Linked DNA regions of Homo sapiens: region 2 is linked to region 1. Evidence: fine-mapped expression QTL. A gene starts in region 1. The other region holds a variant in brackets. All regions are shown on one strand. Distances are from middle to middle. Region 1 holds the start of BLTP3B (bridge-like lipid transfer protein family member 3B). Region 2 overlaps BLTP3B (bridge-like lipid transfer protein family member 3B).

Region 1 (12,060 bases):
ATGAGGCCCTTGGAAATCTAATTTAGTGCACTGCCTATTACAGATGACTAATGGAGCAACAAGCCTAACTCAAAATAGCCCTCTCCATTACCATATTTTTGCTGTACAACCCTTTGCCATTGCTAATTGAACCATGGGTAGACAAAACTGGGTCACAAAGGCTTTCTCTCTAGGGGATTCTGAAACCTGACAGGAGAGATCAAAGACTGGGAATTATGGAAGATAGGCCAGCACTCTAAAGCTGTAGCTCCCAACCAGGAGTAATTTTGCCTCCTATGAGACATTTGGCAATGTCTGGAGACATTAAACATCCTACAATGCACAGAACAGCCTTCACAACAAAGAACTATCTATTTCAAAATGCCAATGATGCCAAGGTTAAAAAACCCTGCTGCTACTTTAAGAGGAAGGTCCAAGAACTCTTCCAATGAGATTCTAGGAGCTAGCTGGTTCCTGTTCTTTCCTTGATTTGGTTGTTCAGATATTCTTCTGCTTTCTGTTACATTTCCCTTTTTACTTAAATAGATCAGCTTTCTGATGTTTGCAGGCAAAACAACTTTACTAGCACAGAACCCTAGCTCAATCATACGACACACACCTGTACACTTTAAGCTGGTTTCTCAATCTCGGAACTACTGACATTTGGGCAAATAATTATTTGTTGTGAGGGAATATGCTGTGCAATGTAGAACGTCTAGCAGCATCCCTGGCCTCTATTCACTAGATGGCAGTAGTATTACCCTCCCCTCCAAGTCTTGACAATTAAAAATATCTCCAGACACTGCCAAATGTCACCTCAAGACAAACTGACCCTGGTTGACAACTGCTGCTTTAAACTATACGATGACTCCACCGAGGTGAGGTGAATGTCTGCCCAGTCAACTCCCACTCCCAGGAAACCTTGTGCAGAGCACAGTATGCCCTTAGCCTAAGGGAGCGAAGGAGAAGAGAGTGTCTGTATCCAAAACTTCCCTACCCCTTTTCAGGTCCTGGCTTAATTAAATATACGTCCACTTTGCCGATTTGCAAGCGCCTGTTCACAGGTGTGTACATGTGTATACACATACACATACACACACACACACACACACTAATGTCTTGAGCTGAAAGGTAGCTTCTGCTTTTATTTCCTTTCTCACATTTGTTACGACTTCTCTTTAGAAGTTTCCATTCCCATGTGAAAAACTACTCTCCTAGAAAACCCTCCCAAAATACATTCAGTCCTATTACAGTTTGAAAAATCGGGGCAGTTTCTCCTTCAAAAGCTTTTCCTGTTTCACTCTGGAAAAATGTCACTACTCTAAGCTCCCCCATCCCACCAACACACCTCCTTGTCCTCATTTCAGATTCTTCAAGTAGATAAACTTTTTATTAACAACTGGAGAGATGTTTGGAATACAAACTAACAATTAGGCAAGGAACAAGTATATAGATTTACAGTTCTCAAATAGTTTAGCATTGAGTTAAAGAATCTGTTAATCTCTTAAGAACAATTCCTCTTCCATACTTTCCCAACATACCAGCTTCTCAAGTCCCTTCATCCAGGCAAAGATGGTTTTAATCTTGCAACTGCACTATATTTCAACCTCAAGGCTAAAAATGAGAGCTCTTTCTCATGTTGGTTCACAGTCTTCCTCCTTACTGGCAGAACTCCTCCCCCCATACAATAACTGGGTTATTTCCTTACCGGAAGACCCCTCATATAAACCCCTGTAAGAACTAGGTCATTTTCCTAGTTATTTTCCAGGATCCAAAGGCACCACATTTATTTAATGATTCAATTACTCACTGCCTCCTAAAGCCACAGGGAAACTGGTCATTCCCAAATCTATAAGAATATTGGCAGTAGTCTTGCCTCAGTAAAAAAAAGCAATGTAAGAGAAAGTAAGCTCATTCATGTTATGTATCCACATTCATGCAACAAATAGTTGTTGAGTACCTACTTTATGCCAGCCTCAAGACAAAAATCCCTGCTCTCATAGAGTCTACATTTAAGTGGAGAAAGACAAAAATACATAAAGAAATAAATATGTACGACAGACAAGCATGAGTGCTATGGAGAAAAATAATGCAAGCAAGAGGACTGGCAATATGGGGGCTCACAATTTTAAACTCTGTGGTCAGGAAAGGTCACCTTTGAGAAGGTGCAATGGGTTGCATACACAGGCCTCACATGATGTCTAGTATTAGAAACTAGTATGTTCAACTATTTCCTGGTAAACTATATTCTACTGTATCCCAGACCACTAGGTCAATGTAGTGACATCTTCATTACTGGATATTCTATAAAATTAAACTTGAACCAGGTAATTTCAAAAGTTCATTCCTTCCTGAGTAACTATAATTTATCACAACACCTGCCTTCTTTTGTCAATTACGAGCTGCCTTTAGATTTCTGAATAACTATTTTTCTTAGGAGATGACAGCAATTAGCAGTAAGATTAACTTATTAACCAAAAATAAAAATTTGATACTCTTTAGTCACCTGAGTTAAGGATGTTTTGAAATATGAAATAACTGAAAACTCAAGTGTCCCAAAAACTCATCTCTGAAAAAAAAAAAAATCCTCATCACACTATTTATCACACAGCTATTACAAATCATACAGATTTAGAAACTAACCCTAAGGGCCAGGCACGGTGGCTCACACCTGTAATCCCAGCACTTTGGGAGGCCAAGGCAGGCGGATCACCTGAGGTTGGGAGTTTGAGACCAGCCTAACCACCATGGAAAAACCCTGTCTCTACTAAAAATACAAAATTAGCCAGGCGTGGTGGCGCATGCCTGTAATCCCAGCTACTCGGGAGGCTGAGGCAGGAGAACTGATTGAAGCCAGGAGGCAGAGGCTGCCGTGAGCCGAGATCATGCCATTGCACTCCAGTCTGGGAAACAGAGTGAGACTCTGTCTCAAAAAAAAAAAAAAAAAAAAAAAAAATATATATATATATATATATATATAAAATAAAATAAAAACTAGCCCTAAAGACTCAATTTTCAATATATGGGTGTTTTCTATCTCATGCAGTAAGCCATTACATCTTTGTTCTTAATTTTTTTTATTATACTTTGGTATGCATGCTCTTAATTTTTAAGAGCCCCTCTCAAATGGAGTTCTATAAAAGAATTAAACTCTAATGCACTATCTGTTGATTGAATTAACTTTTCTTCCAAGCATCTAGAGTGGTACTAGCTATGCAGCATCATCCTTGGACGAGTGAGAAAGTAGGCATTCAAATCATTTTCTGCAGATCTGTATTTTCTTGTGGAGCTGGGTATGAGAAAGGCGGGAGGACATAAATTAAAAATAGATAAAACCTTCCAAAATAAGATAGTTCAAGATTGGGCCATATATATAATTTTAAAAGAAACTTTTCAATGAGTGATAACATTAAGAAATACATATTCATGCAGGGCGTGGGGGCTCACACCTGTAATCCCAGCACTCTGGGAGGCCGAGGACCGCGGATCACCTGAGGTTGGGAGTTCAAGACCAGCCTGGCCTGGTGAAACCCAGTCTCTACTAAAAAAATACTACATATATACACATATATATGTGTAGTGTATACACATATATATGTAGTACACATATATATGTATGTGTATATATGTGTATATATGTATATGTATATATGTACATATGTATATATATGTACACACACACACACACGCTGCTATACTTTGCTACTTTTAAGAAAAGTGCTATATCTTATTCAGTATTATAAGTGAGGAAAATATTTGCTGAATCACAGAAGTAGAATTCTGTTCCCAATATATAACCTGTGGTATAAGACAATCTGGGGAATCAAGAATTATGTTTACTATACAAGTCTATAATCATACCCGTGTCTTCCCAAAATTAGTTAAAATTAACTTACAAATCGAACAGAAAGGGATCCTAACCAAGGGCTTTGAGTTCGCTGGTAACAACTTGGAACAAGAGCCTACATTTAGCCTGTGTCTTGAGACAAACACGGAGAAGCCAAGAGCAGTAACAAACTGCCAGCCTTACTGAGTCATGTTTCTGACTAAAACCGCGTTATGAAATGGAGAGAATGACATGTCTTGGGTTTAATCACCACAGATGTTAACTCCCTGAATTTTAGAGTTGCAGAGGAAAAAGAGCAAAAACCAAAAAAAAAAAATGTTCAGTAATAATGATGTGGGTCTCATAGGACTCCAGAAAGAACCTGCCAAAGCTGCGAACTCTGCTTATTTACCTAAAACAAATCCTAACTGTGCAAACAGGCACACCCTCTGATGCCACAGAGCGGGAACGCCAAGGTGGGAGGAATTCAGAACAATCACAAGGTTAACGTTCCACTGAGAACACAGCCTCCACTGAGCGTCCACACTGCGCCAGAAGCCCTCGGTTAACGGAACCGCTCTGCTCCAAGGGGAAGGAGCACCGAACTCGAGTTAGAGCCCAGCACATTAACCAGGCACTTGGGTGACGCCAGGCCACCTCCAGCCTCCGCTCAGTACCGCACAGAGCCGAGCCGGGACGCCCCCAGACGCCGCGCCGGGAGCGATCCCAGCCCGCCGCGCTCCGCACTCCGGGCTCCTCCGCGCGCCCACCCTGGGAGAAGACGCGTCAGGGGCCGATTCGTGAGGCCAGCCCCCGGCGCCGCCGGCGACAAGAGATCCGGGGCCGCGACCTCTGCCCCGGCCAGAGCGGGGAAGTCCGAAGGTCGCCTCCCGCACAGCCGCCAGGCGCCGCCGCCCCCGAAGCCGCAGGCTGACTCCAGTGCGGGCTGGGGTGGAGGCCGACTGGCGCCGACACCGAGGCGCTCACTGACCTGGAGAGGTGCTTCAAGATTTGTTTCTTGATGATCCCGGCCATGGTACCGAGGCTGGAGACGCCGCGGTCTCGTCCTGTTGCTCACTGCCTCCTCTCTTCGTGGCCGTCTCCTCTCTGTCCCGGCTAGCCCGGCCGGCGGAGAGGCGCTGATCGCTCACGACCGGGAGAGACCCAAGGCCCCGGCCAAGGCCACAGCCGCCGCCGAGAACCCGGAGCATCACGCTCAGGCCGCCACGGCCGCCGCGGGCGCCATCTTGGCTGCAGCATCACCTAAGAGACTCGGTGGAGGGCGGGGGCGGGGCGGCTCCAGGCGGGGCCGGCACGAGGCGGGGCGGGGCCAACGCCGGCTCTGGGCGGGCTCTGGGCGGGCTCTGGCTGGGCTCTGGCTGGGCTCTGGGCGGGGGCGGGAGGTTTGTGGCATTGGCGCCAGGGTTCTTAGCCCTCGCGACACAGGGCCCTTGACTCTCAATACACCATCCTTCTTGGCCTTAATCCTCCCTCCTTCCCTCTGCTGGTGTTCCCGCCTCCATCGCTGACCCGTCGCTGATTTTTACTTCCACGTCCTACTTCCCTTATTCATTTCCTCAGAATGTTTTTTATTTTTTTGCTTGTTTGTTTTTTTTTTTGAGACAAGTCTTGCTCTGTCACACAGGCTGGAGTCCAGTGGTACGATCTCGGCTCATTGCAACCTCCACCTCCAGGGTTCAAGCGATTCTCCTGCTTCAGCCTCCTGAGTAGCTGGGATTACAGGTGCGCACCACCACGGCCGGCTAATTTTTGTATTATTAGAGACGAGGTTTCACCATATTGGCCAGTAGGTCTCGAACTTCTCACCTCGTGATCCACCCTCCTAGCCTCCCAAAGTGCTGACATTACAGGCGTGAGCCACTGCACCCGGCCTCCTTAGAATGTTTTAAGAATCGGCCATTAACTCCTGTGCTTGCTTTGCTCTCTTGACCTACTCACCTTTCTTCATATTCTTCCTTAGGTTTTTGTTTTTGGTGTTTTTTTTTTTTCTTTTGTTAAGGTGTCCTGCCTTTCCCTTACCTAAATGTGGCAATTTAATGTTTCCTTTGGTTATTGCTATTCTAAGGGAAGTAAAGGTTGACAATGGTTCCTAGTAGTCTAGGACCTAGGAATTAGAAGGTGTATAATTCAAGTCCTGGCTCTGGTATTTTCTAGCTGTGTTATCCTGGGGAAAATAATTTCTTTACTATTAGTTTCATTTTAATCATCTGTGAAATAGATTAATCATCAGCCTTACCCACTTCACTAGGTTGAACCTAAAGGTGTAAATATCATATGAAAAGTTCTGTAAGGAAGGAAGGAAATTGTTGAACTAGGGAAAACTGTTACAATTCTACACCTCCACCCCACCCAATCCCAAACAGAGCTAACATTTTCAGAGATTAAAATGACGACTTCTGTCATCCCAGCACTTTGGGAGGCCGAGGCAGGCAGATCACTTGAGGTCAGGAGTTCAAGACCAGCCTGACCAACATGGTGAAACTCTGTGTCTACAAAAAAAAAATACAAAAATTAGCTGGGCATAGTGGCGGGCGCCTGTAATCCCAGCTACTCAGGAGGCTGAGGCAGGAGAATTGCTTGAACCCGGGAGGCAAATGTTGCAGTGAGCTGAGATCAAGCCACTGCACTCCAGCCTGGGCGACAGAGCAAGACTGTCTCAAAAAAAAAAAAAATTACTCAGTGTTAAGTCAAGTTTAGCCTAACACTGCCTCCTTACGTAATTGAGTTCAGCCTAAAGGTTTTTCTGTACATCATGAACTTATGAAAATAAGCAGAGGTATAAACCGACCATAGCCCACACCTGTGCCAATCACTGAGTTTTGGCCAGATGTAGCCAACTGTTCAGACTGTGTTCAAATAAGGCAAACACTGAGCTGTAAGCAATCCAGTTGTTTCTGTACCTCACTTCCATTTTCTAGACCTCACTTTCCTTTTGCTGGCCAGAAATCTGCTCCCAGCATGTGGCTGTGCTGGAGTCTCTCTGAATCTGCTGTGATTATGGGGGCTGCCAGACTCAGGAATCGTTCATTGTTAAACTCCTTTAAATTTAATTTGGCTGAAGTTTTTCTTTTAACACTAGTGATATCTAAAACAGGAAAAGAAATTGTACCACCCCTGAGGGATGTATTAGCAAGATGTGTGGTTGTACATCTTGGGAGTTGGGTGGGAAGTAGTTTACACATAGTCCAATAAGCTGGCCCTTTTTGAAGAATGGAAAGGATAGACGTGTAAGTTGACTACACTCAACATTTCATTTTATTTTTATTTTATTTTTGAGACAGTCTTACTCCATCGCTCAGGCTGGAATGCAGCAGCACGATCTTGGCTCGCTGCGACCTCCGCCTCCCAGGTTCAATCAGTTCTCCTGCCTCAGCCTCCCAAGTAGCTGGGATTACCAGGCTAATTTTTGTATTTTTAGTAGAGACGGAGTTTCACCATGTTGGCCAGGCTGGTCTCGAACTCCTGACCTCACGTGATCCGCCCGCCTCAGCCTTCCAAAGTGTTGGGATTACAGGCATCAGCCACCACACCCAGCTGACTACACTCAACATTTATCATAGATTATAAACCAGGCACTATTCAAGTATCCTGGGGTTGCCTAAATGAAAACAAAAATCTCTGTTCCTGCCATCAGAGTTAACGGCCTGGCTTGGAAGGCAGACTCATGTTACTTACACCTTCAGCTCTGTTAGTAGACTCTGGTTCAAATGCTGGCCACTTTATAACTGTGTAAACTTCAGCAAATTAATCTTTCTCAGCTTCAGTGATCTCATGTGTTAAGAGATATTATTATTAGTAGCTACTGTTAACCTGCCTTATAGCAAACTCAATAAAGGCTAGGTATTATTAATTACTTTACCAAAAACAAGCAAAGTGCTATAAGAACACAGAGGAAGGAGTAATTCATTTGGGGACAGACTTATAGTAGAGGTATTATTTCAAAGATATGAATAAATCCATTTAATTTTTTTAAAAAAATGGACCCTGAAATCAAAGACTTGGATTTAAAACTGAAGCAGGAGGGTTCCCTGACTTCACTCGCAGGACTAACACTAATGCACGAAGTACACAGGGGGGTGGCTCATCTGCTTGGCTACCGAGCACATGCAAACCCCTAATAGGACAGGGAGCACACAGATGGGCAAGTGCAGAAGCCGGAGCAAGGACTTTTGAACTCTGGCCCCATGGTAGCGTCTAGGGGTGGGTAACTGCAACTCCTGAAGCCCAAGTGGGCATGCGTTACACTGCACTCTTTTAGCTTTGTTGTCCACAGATAGCTTAAGTGTTAACTAGCTCAGTGCCCTCTTAGTATCCAGGTCATTGTCAGGCATCCAGAAAGAGGTCACACAGGGACTTGAAGGACGGTGAATGTGGGGTTTTATTGAGTGGTAGAGGTGGCTCTCAACAGGATGGATGGGAAGCTGGAAAGGGGATGGAGTGGGAAGATGATCTTCCCCTGGAATTTGGCCATCCAGTGGCCAAACTCTTCTCAGCGTTCAGTCACTACTTCTCTTGTCTCTGCTGCACTGGTCTGCCATTCTTCTGCTCATCTGTTCATCTCCTTGTCTGCTCATCTGCTTGTGGAGCCTGGGGTTTGGGCTTTCTATGGATACAAGATAGGGTGCTGTGGCAGGCCAAAAGGCAACTTTTGAGCACAAAAACAGAAATGCCTGTTCCCATTTAGGACGGTGGGTTTCCAGGCTTGAGAGTAGGGCATTTGCCAGGGAACCACTCTGTTCTACCCAGTATTTCCCTGTCTCCTGTCCATATCAAAACTGAACTCTGCAGATATTTAGCTATGCTGGTTGTGGTAGGGTGACCCCCAAATTGGGGTTCAGGCTGGGAGGCTACTTGGGTTCCTGCCTTCTGCAGGAAAGAATTCAAGACCAAGCTGACAAGAGTAAAGTGAAACCAAGTTTGTTAAGAAAGTAAAGAAATAAAAGGATAGCTACGCCATAAGCAGAGTAGCAGCATGGGCTGCCCAACTATACTTATGGTTATTTCTTGATTATATGCTAAACAAAGGGTACATATTCATGAGTTTTCTAGTAAGGGTGCAGGGAGTTCCTGGAACTGAGAGTTCCTCCCCCTTTCAGATCATATAGGGTAATTTCTCCATGTTACCATGGCATTTGTAAACTGTCATGGCCCTGATGGGAGTTTCCTTTAGTATGCAAATATATTATAATTAGTGTTTAATGAGCAGTGAGGATGACCAGAGGTTGCTTTCATGACCATCTTGGTTTTGATGGGTTTTGGCCAGCTTCTTTACCTCATCCTGTTTTATCAGTGACAAAGGAGAAAGTCAAAATATTTTACCCCAAAACATGTTTCTTTGCCATATTTTGAAATGGTCCTGCAAAGCCATTCTTTGTGGGGGAAAATTTGCATCTATAAAGAATCTCTATTAACATAGTTAGGTTTTTTTCTTACAGGCCCTCTCAATCCTGAAGAGATTAACTAAGAGTCTATCACCTTTTAAAGGTCTGAATACGAAACATTTGTCATCTATTGTCTCTAAGGGCAGCCACATTAAGACTTCAAAAGAACTTTGGTCTCCACGATCTTTTATCTTAACCAGATCATCCAGGTCTTTAGACAAAGTCAACCAATTGTCAACCAGAAAATGTTTAAATTTACCTATAGCCTGGAAGCTCCCCTCCTTTGACTTGTCTTGCCCTTCTGGACCAAACCAATGTATTTCATTTTTTCGAGATGGAGTCTTGCTCTGTCGCCAGGCTGGAGTGCAGTGGCGCAATCTCAGCTTACTGCAACCTCTGCCTCCTGGGTTCAAGCGATTCTTCTGCCTCAGCCTCCTAGGTAGCTGGGACTACAGGCGCATACCACTACACCCAGCTAATTTTTGTATTTTTAGTAGAGACAGGGTTTCACCATGTTGGCTAGGATGGTCTCAATCTCCTGACCTTGTGATCTACCTGCCTCGGCCTCCCAAAGTGCTGGGATTACAGGCGTGAGCCACCGCGCCTGGCCAAACCAATATATATATATATTTTTGAGATGGAGTCTCACTCTATTGCCCAGGCTGGAGCACAGTAGTGCGATCTTAGCTCACTGCAACCTCTGCCTCTGGGTTCAAGCAATTCTTCTGCCTCAGCCTCCCGAGTAGCTGGGACTACAGGTACGCGCCACCACACCCAGCTAATTTTTTGTATTTTTAGTAGAGACTGGGTTTCACCATATTGGCCAGGCTGGTCTCGAACTCCTGACCTCATGATCCGCCTGCCTCGGCCTCCCAAAATGCTAGGATTACAGGCGTGAGCCACCAGGCCTGGCCAAACCAATGTATTTTTTTTTTTTTTTTTTTTTTGAGATGGAGTCTCGCTCTGTCCCCAGGCTGGAGTGCAGTGGCACGATCTCAGCTCACTGCAACCTCCGTCTCCCGGGTTCACGCCATTCTCCTGCCTCAGCTTCCTACGTAGCTGGGACTACAGGCGCCCGCCACCATGCCCAGCTAATTTTTTTTGTATTTTTAGTAGCGACGGGGTTTCACCGTGTTAGCCAGGATGGTCTCGATCTCCTGACCTCATGATCTGCCCGCCTCAGCCTCCCAAAGTGCTGGGATTACAGGCATGAGCCACCGCGCCCGGCCAAACCAATGTATTTCTTAAATGTATTTGATTGATGTCTGTGCCTCCCTAAAATGTATAAAACCAAGCTGCACTCCTACCACCTTGGGCACATGTTCTCAGGACCTCCTGAGCGCTGTGTCATGGGCCATGGTCACTCATTTCGCTCAGAATAAATCTCTTCAAATAGTTTATAGACTTTGATTCTTTTTGTCCACAAGGATAGTTTGAAATCAGCCATGATGACAGTATTTACAACATAGAAAGCAGGGCTTTTTCCCCTAGAGATCTAGTTGTTAAGCATTCACCAGCACAAGACTATAAAATGAGTTTAGGCTGGGCGCGGTGGCTCAGGCCTATAATCCCAACACTTTGGGAGGCCGAGGCTGGTGGATCACTTGAGGTCAGGAGTTAGAGACCAGCCTGGCCAACATGGTGAAACTCTGTCTCTACTAAAATTACAAAAAATTAGCTGGGCATGGTGGCGGGTGCCTGTAATCCCAGCTACTTGGGAGGCTGAGGCAGAAGAATTGCCTGAACCCAAGAGATGGAGGTTGTAGTGAGCCAAGACTGCGCCACTGCACTCTAGCCTGGGCAACACGAGCGGAACTCCGCCTCAAAAAAAAAAAAAAAAATTGGAGGGAGATGAGATTGTAAATGTAAATATATAGACATCATTTTATAGGAAATAGTGAGTCCTGAAGACCTCTATGATGGGTTAATTGGGGAAGATGTTCATATTTCTGAGTCAGAAAAATATTTACAGACAATTTTGCTGTCAGTTCAGAGGATGGAGAACAGAATGGAGGCAGAAAGGGCATTGAGAAGGTGGTGGCATTATTTCAGGTGAGAGGTAAGACAGTATCAGTAGAGGTGAAAGAAGGTAAAGGACACATGCCAAAGATTAAATCAAGGATAAATATTGAAGGTAATTGAGGTTTTTGCTCGGGGCACGCCACTAGTTAAGTAATATAGTTGGACAGGCAGTTTTGGAGATAAGATCCTGTTGAATTTCTTGCTGTTAAGGCTTTCTGAGGATTTCTCAGTGGAAATTTTGTAAGGTTATAGTTTTGGGTGGAAATTCTGGTTTACGAATCGTGGTAGCTGAAGCCAAGAACAAGAATAATCTTGATCAAAGGGTATGTAAGTCATGAGGAAAGGAAAAAGAAGCTTAAATGAGAAAGGGTGGATAAACAGGAGAGACAAGATGGAAAGAGCATTTTTTTTTTTTTTTTTTGAGGTGGAGTCTAGCTCTGTCACCCAGGCTGGAGTGCAGTGGCGCAATCTAGGCTCACAGCAACCTCTGCCTCCTGGGTGATTCTCCTGCCTCAGCCTCCTGAGTAGCTGGGACAACAGGAGAGCACCACCACGCCCAGCTAATTTTTTGTATTTTTAGTAGAGACGGGGTTTCACCATGTTGGCTAGGCTGGTCTCGAACTCCTGACCTCAGGTGATCTGCCTGCCTCGGCCTCCCAAAGTGTTGGGATTACAGGTGTGAACGAGCATGCCTGGCCTGAAAATAGCATATTTTAAAGGATGAGAGATAAATAGAAATGATGGCTGCTCTATGATGTAAGATTTACAAAGTATTCTTTACTTGACTGGAATAAGAGATCTTACAACTTTTGTTTTTAAGGGTTTTTAGAT
Region 2 (12,060 bases), 37 kb before region 1:
CCACTGCATTCCAGCCTGGGCAACAGAGTGAGACCCAAAAATACATATTCACATTCTATTTTTTTTTTTTTTTACTCTGAACACCACTCAATGAATGTATTCATTTTATTGATATCCATTCCAGACCTACTGAATCAGAAATTCAAGAAAAGGAGCTTCAGAGACTTTGTAGATTTAATAAGCACTCTAAATGACTGTTACAATCAGGCAAGTCTGAAAAAATGCTGAAATAGATTAACCATACTGCCATATGTCAAAATATGAGGATGATTTAAATAGTTTAAATCATCACATGATTAGAAAGCCAAAATTATAAAGCTTATGATACTATAAAAACAAGAATTAGGAAGAACACTATCAACTATACTAAGCACACAAGGACAAAATGATTCATTTTAGTTCTTTCCGACTCTAGCCAACCTAAAGGCCAACAACTATTCTATGAAAACTGAAATCATAATCTAACCTGTAAAATCTGAAGTTGCAGGATGATGCTACATTACAAAGAAGTTAACATGAAAGCTCTTTTCCCAGTCACTAATATCTGTAGTCCAAATATAAACTGCACATCTGATAAACCTGGCCTTTAGTCAACTCTTAGAAGTGGAACGAATCACCATTAGATTCCCATGGCATGCACTGTAGGTATTCTCATGGCATGCACTAACATAAAGGTGGCTCAACCTTTGTAAAACAGGAGTAAGTGAGTGTGTGTCTGTGTACACACACGAATGCATTCATCCTCAAGAAAAGTTTTATCAATTGTTTTACATAACACCTAGAATACTATACATGTTCAGAGCTGCTATTTTACGCAATATGAGGAGGCATTAATCACATTAAAAATCTATGTCAACAATTAATGTGAACGCAAAAATAATGCAGAAATCCTGTTGTAGAAAAATCATGTATAGTTCTAGATTTAAATTTCACTGAGTGCAAAAAAGCAGACAACATATTTTTAAAAATTTAATAACTTCTAACTTTTCAAAAAGACTTTATGAAATGATCCCCATACTTCTGCTGTATTAGCATCTGATTTTCATCTATCAAAATACAACCTGTGGAAAGCAAAAACATTTTAAACTTAATGAATTTTAGAGTAACCCAAAAGGTCTGTAATTTAAGGCATCAACTTAACTCTTTGTTTTTGAGACAGAGTCTCTCTCCATCACCCAGGCTGCAGTGCAGTGGCATGAGCTCAGCTCACTGCAGCCTTGACCTCCCGGGTTCAAGCAATTCTCCTGCCTGGGCCTCCTCAGTAGCTGGGAATACAGGCGTATACCACCGCACCCAGTTTTTGTATTTTTGGTAGAGACGGGGTTTCACCATGTTGGTCAAGCTGGTGGCAAACTCCTGACCTCAGGTGATCCGCCCACCTCAGCCTCCCAAAGTGCTGGTATTACAGGCGTGGGCCACTACACCGAGCCCAACTTAACTCTTTTTTTTTTTTTTTTTGAGACGGAGTCTCGCTCTGTCACCAAGGCTGGAGTGCAATGGCGCGATCTTGGCTCACTATAACCTCCGCCTCCCGGGTTCAAGCAATTCTCCTGCCTCAGCCTCCCAAGTAACTGGGATTAAAGGTGCATGGCGCCATGCCCAGCTAAAGTTTTTTGTATTTTAGTAGAGACAGGGTTTCACCGTTTTGCCCAGGCTGGTCTCAAACACCTGAGTCCAGGGAATCCACCCGCCTCGGCCTCCCAAAGTGCTAGGATTACAGGCATGAGCCACCGCTCCCAGCCTCCCAACTTAACTCTTAAGAGTCATAAAAGTTCCACTGATGCACAGAAAATGATATGCAGAGAAACTGATCAGAGGCTATCTGATTTATATAATGCCTAAATTCTTCTGCTTCCATTTTCTGTTGCTGCTCTGCCATTAGTTAATCACTATTATTTAATAATAGCAAGGAAAGCAAGATGAATAAAGAAAGTTAAAAGTCAAATCTGCAACTTTGCAATGTATATAACTAAAATTGTAAAATGTTTGATGGGAGAGCTGACTGAAATAGAGGCCATTTGAGGTTAAGGCTTTTTTTTTTTTTTTTTTTAATGTCCTGTTATTGGCAGTCATGCAGATTAATGGAAGTAGCTTACCTTTGTCCTGAAGCAGTTGCAATTGGTGATGGGCCATTAGGGCTTCTTGGTTCTTCACATGTACTCATTTCCATTATTACTTTATCCAGGGACTAATAAAAACGTTAAAATATAAACAATTAGATTATTTATTCTACGTATATTATTAAAGTATTATTTAAGATTATTTTCTCTTTCATTTTTCTTTAGGAAGAAAGTAAAAAGTGAGCAGAGTCATTTAAGTGCCTCTCTACAGGTCTAAAAAGACAAATGCCAAAAAAGAACACAAAGCACTCAATCAGTTCTCAAGGCATTTATTATCTGGTGGAAAAGCTATGTGTATTACAGGTGTTGGGGGGTGGGGAATTAAGACATAGCCATTAACTACTAAAATCATCAGATTTCATGAAAACAGAATCTCTACTCCCAGATATATTCATTGATGAAATTATATATTAATAAGTAGGACTGAACTACCCCAAAAAGCTTATCACAATCTAAGATCTGAGCTATGAGACACAAAACTATGGGAAATATGAAATAAGCAGGAAATGTGAAAAAAAATAAACACTCCCATAATGGAAAAGGTTCTTTCTCAGGGTAATATTTTTCTCCTTGAAGAAAGATCTAATGTCCTTAATCGCCATCACTAACACTACTCCAGTCATTCTTCATTCTCTATTTCATATATAGCATTTATTATTATCTGAAACTGTCTTGTTTTATTCATGTTCTTGATCATTGTATTTTTTAAATGAACGAACAAATGATCAATTTTCTTCAACTTTCCTTAAAAAGCAAAGTATATTAAAGAACATATTTCATAATTTACTAGATCACTAAAAGGAGAAACAAAGACAGTCTGGATCAAATGTTACTGAAAGAATAATCCCATAGTACATCAACAAAGAGTTAAATGATGCAATAAAATACTATACCAATTTAGAACACAGTATTCTAGACCTGAAAAACTTTAAAGATGCTCCTACTTTAAGGTTAAAGCTTCTCATTTAAAGGATGAAAAACCTGAGTCCTATCAAAATAAAATGAAACCTAACTGGTGAAAAATCCAGACTATATTTCCATGAAACAAAAGATTACTATGAACAGAGTAGCTAGATAATGTATATATATAAATGTTTATTTCTAAAGTGGTTTCAGAACTCACCAAACAGATGGGATGTGTTTTCAGTTTTGTCCATGGGATCTACAAATGAAAAATTTTTAATTTAAGATCAATCATTAAGAAGAAAATAATGTAAACAGTAATCAATACAGGTGTTATATTAATATAGGACAGACACACCAAATTATATAAAATCACTTTTCTTAAACTACAAAATAAACTAAGCAACTCACTCATACTTTTGAAACCAGATGTACCCATTTTATTTAAGAAATTATTACTAGCTATATCTCCTCAGACATCTTTTGAATAGAAATTGTAAGTTCTTTTTTTCTTTTTTTTTTTTTTTTTTGAGACAGAGTCTCTTTCTGTTGCCCAGACTGGAGTGCAGTGGCACGATATCGGCTCACTGCAACCTCCACCTCCTGGGTTCAAGCAATTCTCGTGCCTCAGCCTCCCAGTAGCTGAGATTACAATCAAGTGCCACCACGCCCGGCTAATTTTTGTATTTTTAGTAGAGACAGTGTTTTGATATGGTGGCTAGACTGGTCTCTAACTCCTGGCCTCAAATGATCCACCCAACTCGGCCTCTCAAGGTGCTGGGATTACAGGCACGCACCACCATGCCTGGCCAATTTCAGGTTCTTTTAAGTATCTTTTTTTTTTTAACAATCCTTAAAACAAATCTTAATATCATAATTTAAATGAAGAGCTTAACAACCTGTTTAATCCTAAAATTCTGAGCAATCATTTTGTAAATATTCAAGACAAATACAAAAGTTCGGCCATTAATATAAAATGTAGGAAACATCAAATACATAATGTTGATATACCCTGTACTAAAAATGCCAAGTTTTGCCTCCAAAAGGCTCTTAGATCTAATAAATAAATTCAGTAAGGTTTAGGTTACAAAATCAACGTACACAAATTAGTAGCACTGCTACAAACCAACAAAAACCACGCTGATAATCAAATCAGGAACTCAATCCCTTTTACAATAACTACTGCTACTACAAAAAAAAAAAAAAAAAAAAAAAAAAAAATGTAGGAATATACCTAACCAAGGAGTTGAAAGATCTCCACATGGAGAACTACAAAACACTGTGGAAAATCATAGATGACATAAGCAAATGGAAATATATCCCATACTCGTGGACTGGAAGAATCTATACTGTGAAAATGACCATACTGCCCAAAGCAATCTACAAATTCAACACAATTCTTCTCAAAGTACTAACATCATTTTTCACAGAATTAGAAAAAACAATCCTAAACTTCATATGGAACCAAAAAAGAACCCAAATAGCCAAAGCAATCCTAAGCAAAAAGAACAAAACTGGAGGCATCACATTACCCAACTTCAAATTATGCAAGTCTATAGTAACCAAAACAGCATGGAACAGGTGTAAAAATAGGCACATGGACCAATGGAACAGAATAAAGTATTCTGTTTCTGTTCCATTGAACAGAATACACAGGCCAATGGAACAGAATAGAGAACCAAGAAATAAAGCCAAATACTAACAATCAACTGATCTTTGACAAAGCATACAAAAACACAAACTGGAGAAAGGACACCATATTCAATAAATGGTGCTGGAAAAAGTGGATAGCCACATGTAGAAGAATGAAATTGGATCCCTATCTCTTACTGTATACAAAAATTAACTCAAGATAAATGAAAGTTTTAAATCTAAGATCTGAAACCATAAAAACTGTGGAAGAAAACCTAGGAAAAACTCTTCTGAACGTTGGCCTAGGCAAAGAATTTATGACTGAGACCCCAAAAGCAAATGCAACAAAAATAAATGAGACCTAATTAAACTAAAACGCTTCTACACAACAAAAGAAATAATCATCTGAGTAAACTGACAACCTACGGATTGTCAATATTCACAAACTATGCATCTGACAAAGAAAATATGCACAAATTATGTGTCTGACAAAGGACTAATATTCAGAATCTACAAGGAACTCAAACAAATCAGCAAGAAAAAAAACACGCCCATTAAAAAGTGAGCAAGGACATGAACAGACATTTTGCAAAAGAAGATATACAAATGGCCAACAACCACATGAAAAAATGCTCAAAATCATTAATCATAAGGGAAATGCAAATTAAAAACACATTGAGACACCACCTTTTTCCAGCCAGAATGGCCATTACTAAAAAGTTGAAAAACAATCGATGTTGGCATGGAAGTGATGAAAAAGGAATGCTTATACACTGCTGGTAGGAATATAAGTTAGTACAACCTCAATAGAAAACAGTATAGAAATTTCTCAAAGAACTAAAAGTAGATCTACCATTCGATCCAGCAATCCCACTACCGAGTGGGTACCTATCCAAAGGAAGAGAAGTCACTATATGAAAAAGACACTGGTCCTCATTTCAAACATGACTCTATTAAAAAAAAAAAAAGACACCTGGACACATATGTCTATTGCAACACAATGCACAATTGCAAAGATATGGAATCAATCTAAGTGCCCATCAACCTATGAGTGGTTACAGAAAATGTGGTACATAAATACCATGGAATACTACTCAGCCATAAAAAAAGAGCAAAATAATGTCTTTTGCAGCAACTTGAAAAGAACTGGAGGCCATTATTCTAAGTGAAGTAACATGAATTGAAAACCAAATACCACATGTTCTTTTAAGTGTGAGGTGAACTATGGGTATGCAAAGGCATACAGAGTGGCATAATGGACTTTGAAGACTCAGAAGGTGGGTAGGGGTAGGAGAGGGATGAGGGATGAAACTACTTCCTGAGTACAATATACACTACTCAGCTGACAGATGCACTAAAATCCCAGACTTTACCACTATACAATTCACTCATGTAAACAAAAACCACTTGTATCTCTAAAGCTATTGAAATAAAAAAAAATTTACTGAAAGTGTCAAGTCTTTGTAGATATTTAGGTTTCCAAAGGATAGAACAAAAATTAAAAGTGACCATCAAAGGATATAGGAACTTTTCTATAATCTTTTCTTAGGAGCCCAAATTTTAGTTTTAGGAAACAATCAGCATGCAGTATTTCAACTAAGCAGACAACTCTTAAACAAAGCCTCATCTTTAAGACCAAGAAGTGACACAAATTGACATATGATTAAAGATAAGTAGAGGTCAGCCGGGCACGGTGGCTCATACTGTAATCCCAGCACTTTGGGAGGCAGAGGCGGGTGGTGGATCACCTGTCAGGAATTTGAGACCAGCATGGCCAACAGGATGAAACCCCATCTCTACTAAAAATACGAAAATTAGCCAGGTGTGGTGGCATGCGCCTATAATTCCAGCTACTTGGAAGGCTGAGGCAGGAGAATTGCATGAACCTGGGAGGTAGAGGCTGCAGTGAGCCAAGACGGTGCCACTGCACTCCAGCCTGGGTGACAGAGCAAGACTCCATCTCCCAAAAAAAAAAAAAAAAAAAAAAAGATAAGTAGAATAATAAGTTATAATAATAATAATAATAGGAATGATACTAACAGTAAACAGAGACCCTTAAAAATCTCAAAATGGGCTGGGCACGGGCGGATCACAAGGTGAGGAGATTGAGACCATCTCGGCCAACATGGTGAAACCCCATCTCTACTAAAATACAAAAAAATTAGCCAGACGTGGTGGCACGTGCCTGAAATCCCAGCTACTTGGGAGGCTGAGGCAGGGGAATCGCTTGAACCCGGGAGGCAGAGGTTGCAGTGAGCTGAGATTGCACCACTGCACTCCAGCCTGGTGACAGAGCAAGACTCCGTCTCAAAAAAAAATCTCAAAATGAAAAAGAAACTAATGAAGAAAAGGGATAAAACTGCAAATTTATTAGTTCTCATGTCTTCATTTGAAAAGTATTTACTCACTACTTTTTAAAAATTGTTTTGAGACAGGGTCTCACTCCGTCACCCAGGCTGGAGTGCAGTGGCACAATCATGACTCACTGCAGCCTCACCCTTCCAGACTCAACCGATCATCCTGCTTCAGCTTCCCAAGTAGCTGGGCCTACAGGCGCATGTGCTACCATGTTGGGCTATTTTTTTATTTTTATTTTTAGTATAGATGCAGTCTCATTATGTTACCCAGGCTAGTCTCAAACTCCTGGGCTCAAGCAATCCGCCTACCTCGGCCTTCCAAAGTGCTGGGATTACAGGTGTGAGCCACCATGCCCAGCAACTCACTACAAGTTTAGATTGTCCCATTTGACAATAAAACTTATGAAAAAACTATCTTTGAACATGTAC[CA/C]AATGGATGCAATTATTTTATTAACAAATTAATAATTTTGAAATATTAATGGAATCACTTTACACAAAAATTAAGATCTATAAAGTAGTTAATATATGCCTTTACACATAAGGCACACATTTATGCAAAGGTATCTTTCTTTTGAAATTATATTAATAAAAATGTTTTTACACAATTATCTAAAATTAAGTATTTTAAAAGCTAGAGCCAAAATATAGAAGGAAAACATGAAAGGCCTTCCACAAATATCAAGCCACAGATATCAAAGTCTCACCCTAATGGACGCTTTATTACAAAAAACTTTGTTGATAGCAAGCCATGTTGGCAAATCCAACATATTCTGGAGTACTTCTTCATCCAACTCCAAATTCTTCAGTTCACCTTCTCCTTTAAGGGTACTTAGATTTATCTTGTCAGGAGATAAATTTTTGGTAAATCTGAAAGAGAATACACATTGACATTTATTTATGTGTCAGTTACTATACTCCAGAGTCATTTTTTCAAATATACAGAGAACTAAAAATATAATAGGAGTGGACACAACATAATGTCCATCAACGACAAATGGATAAAGAAAATGTGGTACATATACACGATGGAGTATTATTCAGCCATAAAAAAGAATGAGATCCTGTCATTTGCAACAACATGGATGGAACTGGAGGACACTACAGTTAAGTGAAACAAACCAGGCACAGAAAGACAAACTTTACACACTCTCGTTCATTTGTGGGAGCTAAAAATTAAAACAATTGAATACATGGAGATCAAGAGTAGAAATGATGGTCACCAGAGGCTGGAAAGGGTAGTGGTGGGGAGCAGGGGTGGGAATGGGTAGTGGGTACAAAAATACAATTAGGTAGAATGAATACAATACTGATATGGTTTGGTTCTGTGTCCCCACCCAAATCTCACCTCTAATTGTAATCCCCACATGTCAGGGGAAGGAGCTGGTGGGAGGTGACTGGATCATGGGGGTAGTTTCTCATGATAGTTAGGGAGTGAGTTCTCACAAGATCTGATGATTTAAAAGTGTCTGGCAGTTTTCCTCTCTCTCTCTCTCTCTCTCTCTCTCTCTCTCTCTCTCTCTCTCTCTCTCTCTCCTGCCACCATGTAAAACATGCCTTGCTTCACCATCACCTTCCACCATGATTGTGAGTTTCCTGAGGCCTCCCCAGCCATGCAGAAGTGTAAGCCAATTAAACTTCTTTCTTCAGTCTCAGGTATGTCTTCATAGCAGTATAAAAACGGACTAAGACAGATATAGTATTCAACAGCACAACAAAGTGACTACAGTCAACAATAATTTATTGTACGTTTTAAAGTAATTGTGTAACTGGAATGTCTGTAACACAAAGAAATGATAAAGGCAGCCAGGTGCGTGGCTCACACCTATAATCCCAGCATTTTAGGAGTCTGAGGAGGGCGGATCACTTGAGGGCAGGAGTTCAAGACCAGCCTGGCCAACATGGTGAAACCTGGTCTCTACTAAAAATACAAAAATATTAGCTGGGCATGTTGGCGCATGCCTGTAGTCCCAGCTATTCAGGAGGCTGAGGTGGGAGTTTCGCTTCAGTCCAGGAGGTGGAGAATGCAGTGAGCTGAGATTGTGCCACTGCACTCCAGCCTGGGTGACACAGTGAGACCCTGTCTCAGAAAAAAAAAAAAAAAAAGATTGGAAATAGTTAATGTAAGAGTGAGCATTTTCCAAGGGTTTACTGTGTTCCAAGCTCTTGGCATACATGCGTGACTATTTCATTTAGTTCCCATGATAACCTATTAGGGTCTATACTAATTTTAACCCAATTTTTGAATAAGTAAACCTAAGGAGAAACTTGAACTTACTTGCCTAATATCACAACTAACAATGAAAATACATTACACATCTACTTTGAAATACATTCATATACATTACTTTATCTTCCAAACAACCCTAAAAAATAAAAATTACTAACTATGCCCAACAAATAATTTTTCAAAAGTGAAATTACTGAAAAAAACTAAACTACTGGCTAACAAGAGTTAGTCTTTACTTTTTTTGGAAATTAAATATAAAGCAACATTATATACTGGGTTATTCACATGCCCTACTTGTCAACAAGAATACCAATCAATAAACTCATGTTTCTCCACTGACTCCAAACCAGAATTTGAGCCAGATTCTATCTGAATTCATATCTTCTCACAGGATGTCAACTGAGAAATACAACAATCATTTAACACATGTATTTGACCAATGATGCTGAGCTGTATTACACTTGCTTCTGATCACGCTTGATTCAATACCACGACGCTTTCTCATAGAATGCCATTCCTAACCATAGATAACAAACAAAAAACCCTGCCACTTCCCTGAGGCAGAATATTAGAGCCAGAAGACAACACTCAATAAGTATTTATTGAGAATTCATTATGCAGACACACATACTGGGAAGCAGTACACTTGAGGTCCCTGCCCTTGTGGAGTTTTCAGTTTAGTTGGTGAGACGGATCAAATGGCACAACTAAGAGAGAATATAGCAGGAGTTCTAATCCAGAGCTTCTCTGAAACAGGGACTTTTGAGCTGGTATCTAAAGGAAGAGAAGTTAACTAGGCAAGGAGGAAAAGGGGGTAGGGAAAGAAAGTATTCCAAGCAGAGGAATAAAATGCATAAAGGTTCTAAGACAGGAGGGAGATGATATAAAGTGGAATTGAAAAAATATCAGAAATACTGTTATCTGTAATATTTATAGGGAAGGAAGGATGGACAACAGACTAATCTGAGTAACTCAAACAGAATATTTGACTATATATTCTAACATTTGACTATATATCCTTAGTCTTGGGCATGGAGGAATATGGGGATGGAGGTGAAGCATGGTTAGTGAAGAAATCAGGCAACACCTTGATTGGGTATGTACAAGAATGTTCATTTCAAGGATATCTACAAGAAAAAAAGAGTGAAAACAATCTAAACGTCCCAAGAGGGATACCCCATCTAATTATAATACACTATATTATTAATACATACATATCAAGTAATATATGTTGCCAGTCTTATAAAGAAATGTTTATATTATAATGTTTGATGAAAATTCAAGTCACAAAATTATGTGCTATAATTTCAAGTATGTAAAAAATGCATCATAAAATCCCATGACTACCTATGGCTGGTGGGGTTTTAGATTTTTTTTTTTTTTTTTTTTTTTTTTGCTTTTTTGAGACACGGTCTCGCTCTGTTGTCCAGGGTGGAGTGCAGTGGTGTGATCATGGCTCATTTCAACCACGACCGCCTGGACTCAGGTGATCCCACCTCAGCTTTCCAAGTAGCTGGGACCACCACACCCAGCTAATTAGTTTATTTATTTAATTTACTTTGAGACAGGGTCTCACCCTGTTGCCCAGGCTAGAGTGCAGTGGTTTGATTTTGGCTCACTGCAACCTCCACCTCCAAAGCAGTTGGGACCATGGGCACATGCCACCATGCTCAGCTAGTTTTTTGTTTTTTTTTGTTTGTTTGTTTTGTTTTGTTTTGAGACAGTCTTGCTCTGTCACCCAGGATGGAGTGCAGTGGCACAATCTCAGCTCATTGCAACCTCTGCCTTCTGGGTTCAAGCGATTCTCCTGCCTCAACCTCCTGAGAAGCTGGGATGACAGGCACGCACCACCACGCCCAGCTAATTTTTGTATTTTTAGTAGAGACGGGGTTTCACCATGTTGGTCAGGCTGGTCTCTAACTCCCGACCTTGTGATCCATCCACCTCGGCCTCCCAAAGTGCTGGCTGGGATTACAGGCATGAGCCACCGTGCCCAGCCCCAGCTAGTTATTTTTTAAAGACAGGGACTCACTATGTTGCTCAGGCTGATATCGAATCCCTGGGGTCAAGCAATCCTCCTGCCTCAGCCTCCCAAAGTGCTGGGATTACAGGTGTGAACCACCACACCCAGCCTAGATTTACTTCTCCTTATTTATACTTCTCTGTATAAGTATTCTATAACGAGCATGTACCACTTTTATAAAGACAAAAGTTCAAGGGAAACCAAAAAAGCCTGGCCTGGCAAGAGCAAAAGTGAAAAATGAGGAGGATTAAAATATATGTAATTTAGCCAGGAGCAGTGGCTCATGCTTGAAATCTCAGCAGTTTGAGAGGCCAAGGCAAGAAGATCACTTGAGCCCAAGAGTTTGAGACCAGCCTGGGCTGGTCTATATATTAGTGAGTGACTATATTAGTGAGACCCTATGTCTACAAAAAATTTAAAAAAGAATTAGCCAGGCATAGTGGAACACTCCTGTAGTCCCAGTTACTGAGGGGACTGAGCTGGGAGGATTGCTTGAGCCTGGGAGGTCAAGGCTGCAGTGATCCATAATTTTGCCACTGCACTCCAGCCTGGGTGACAGAGCCTTTGTCTCAAAGACAAAACAAAAAACAAAAATAATAGCTAACAACAGCAATAAAATTTCCAAGCAAATGAAAAAAGTAGACTTGATTTAGATTATACATTTTACAATCAATACACCATTATTAGGGTCTAAATTATGTGCACTGCACTAAGTAAACATTTAAGGGCAAAACAAAACAAAACAAAAAGGTCCATATAATCAAAGATTTATAATTTGGTTAAGGGAACAGAGAATAA

The links. PIP is the estimated chance that this variant, and not a neighbour inherited with it, causes the effect.
Region 2: its variant is fine-mapped to the expression of BLTP3B in whole blood (INTERVAL, PIP 0.98).

What each region holds. Positions count from the first base shown.
Region 1 is chr12:100,137,796-100,149,855 of GRCh38, forward strand. BLTP3B (bridge-like lipid transfer protein family member 3B) reads right to left here and starts at 5,079. Exons shown (of 21, transcript NM_015054.2): 1 at 4,797-5,079. The coding sequence starts at 4,840. It overlaps BLTP3B-DT (BLTP3B divergent transcript), which reads left to right and starts at 5,260. Exons shown (of 2, transcript NR_186018.1): 1 at 5,260-5,548; 2 at 6,745-6,876. RefSeq lists silencers at 956-1,105, 4,494-4,743, 5,064-5,243 and enhancers at 4,624-5,387, 8,800-9,608.
Region 2 is chr12:100,100,670-100,112,729 of GRCh38, forward strand. BLTP3B (bridge-like lipid transfer protein family member 3B) reads right to left here. Exons shown (of 21, transcript NM_015054.2): 2 at 7,717-7,879; 3 at 3,244-3,282; 4 at 2,097-2,188. Among named protein-coding and RNA genes, the nearest start is that of BLTP3B, 36 kb to the right of the region's middle. The variant CA/C (reference allele first, on the strand shown) is at 7,442.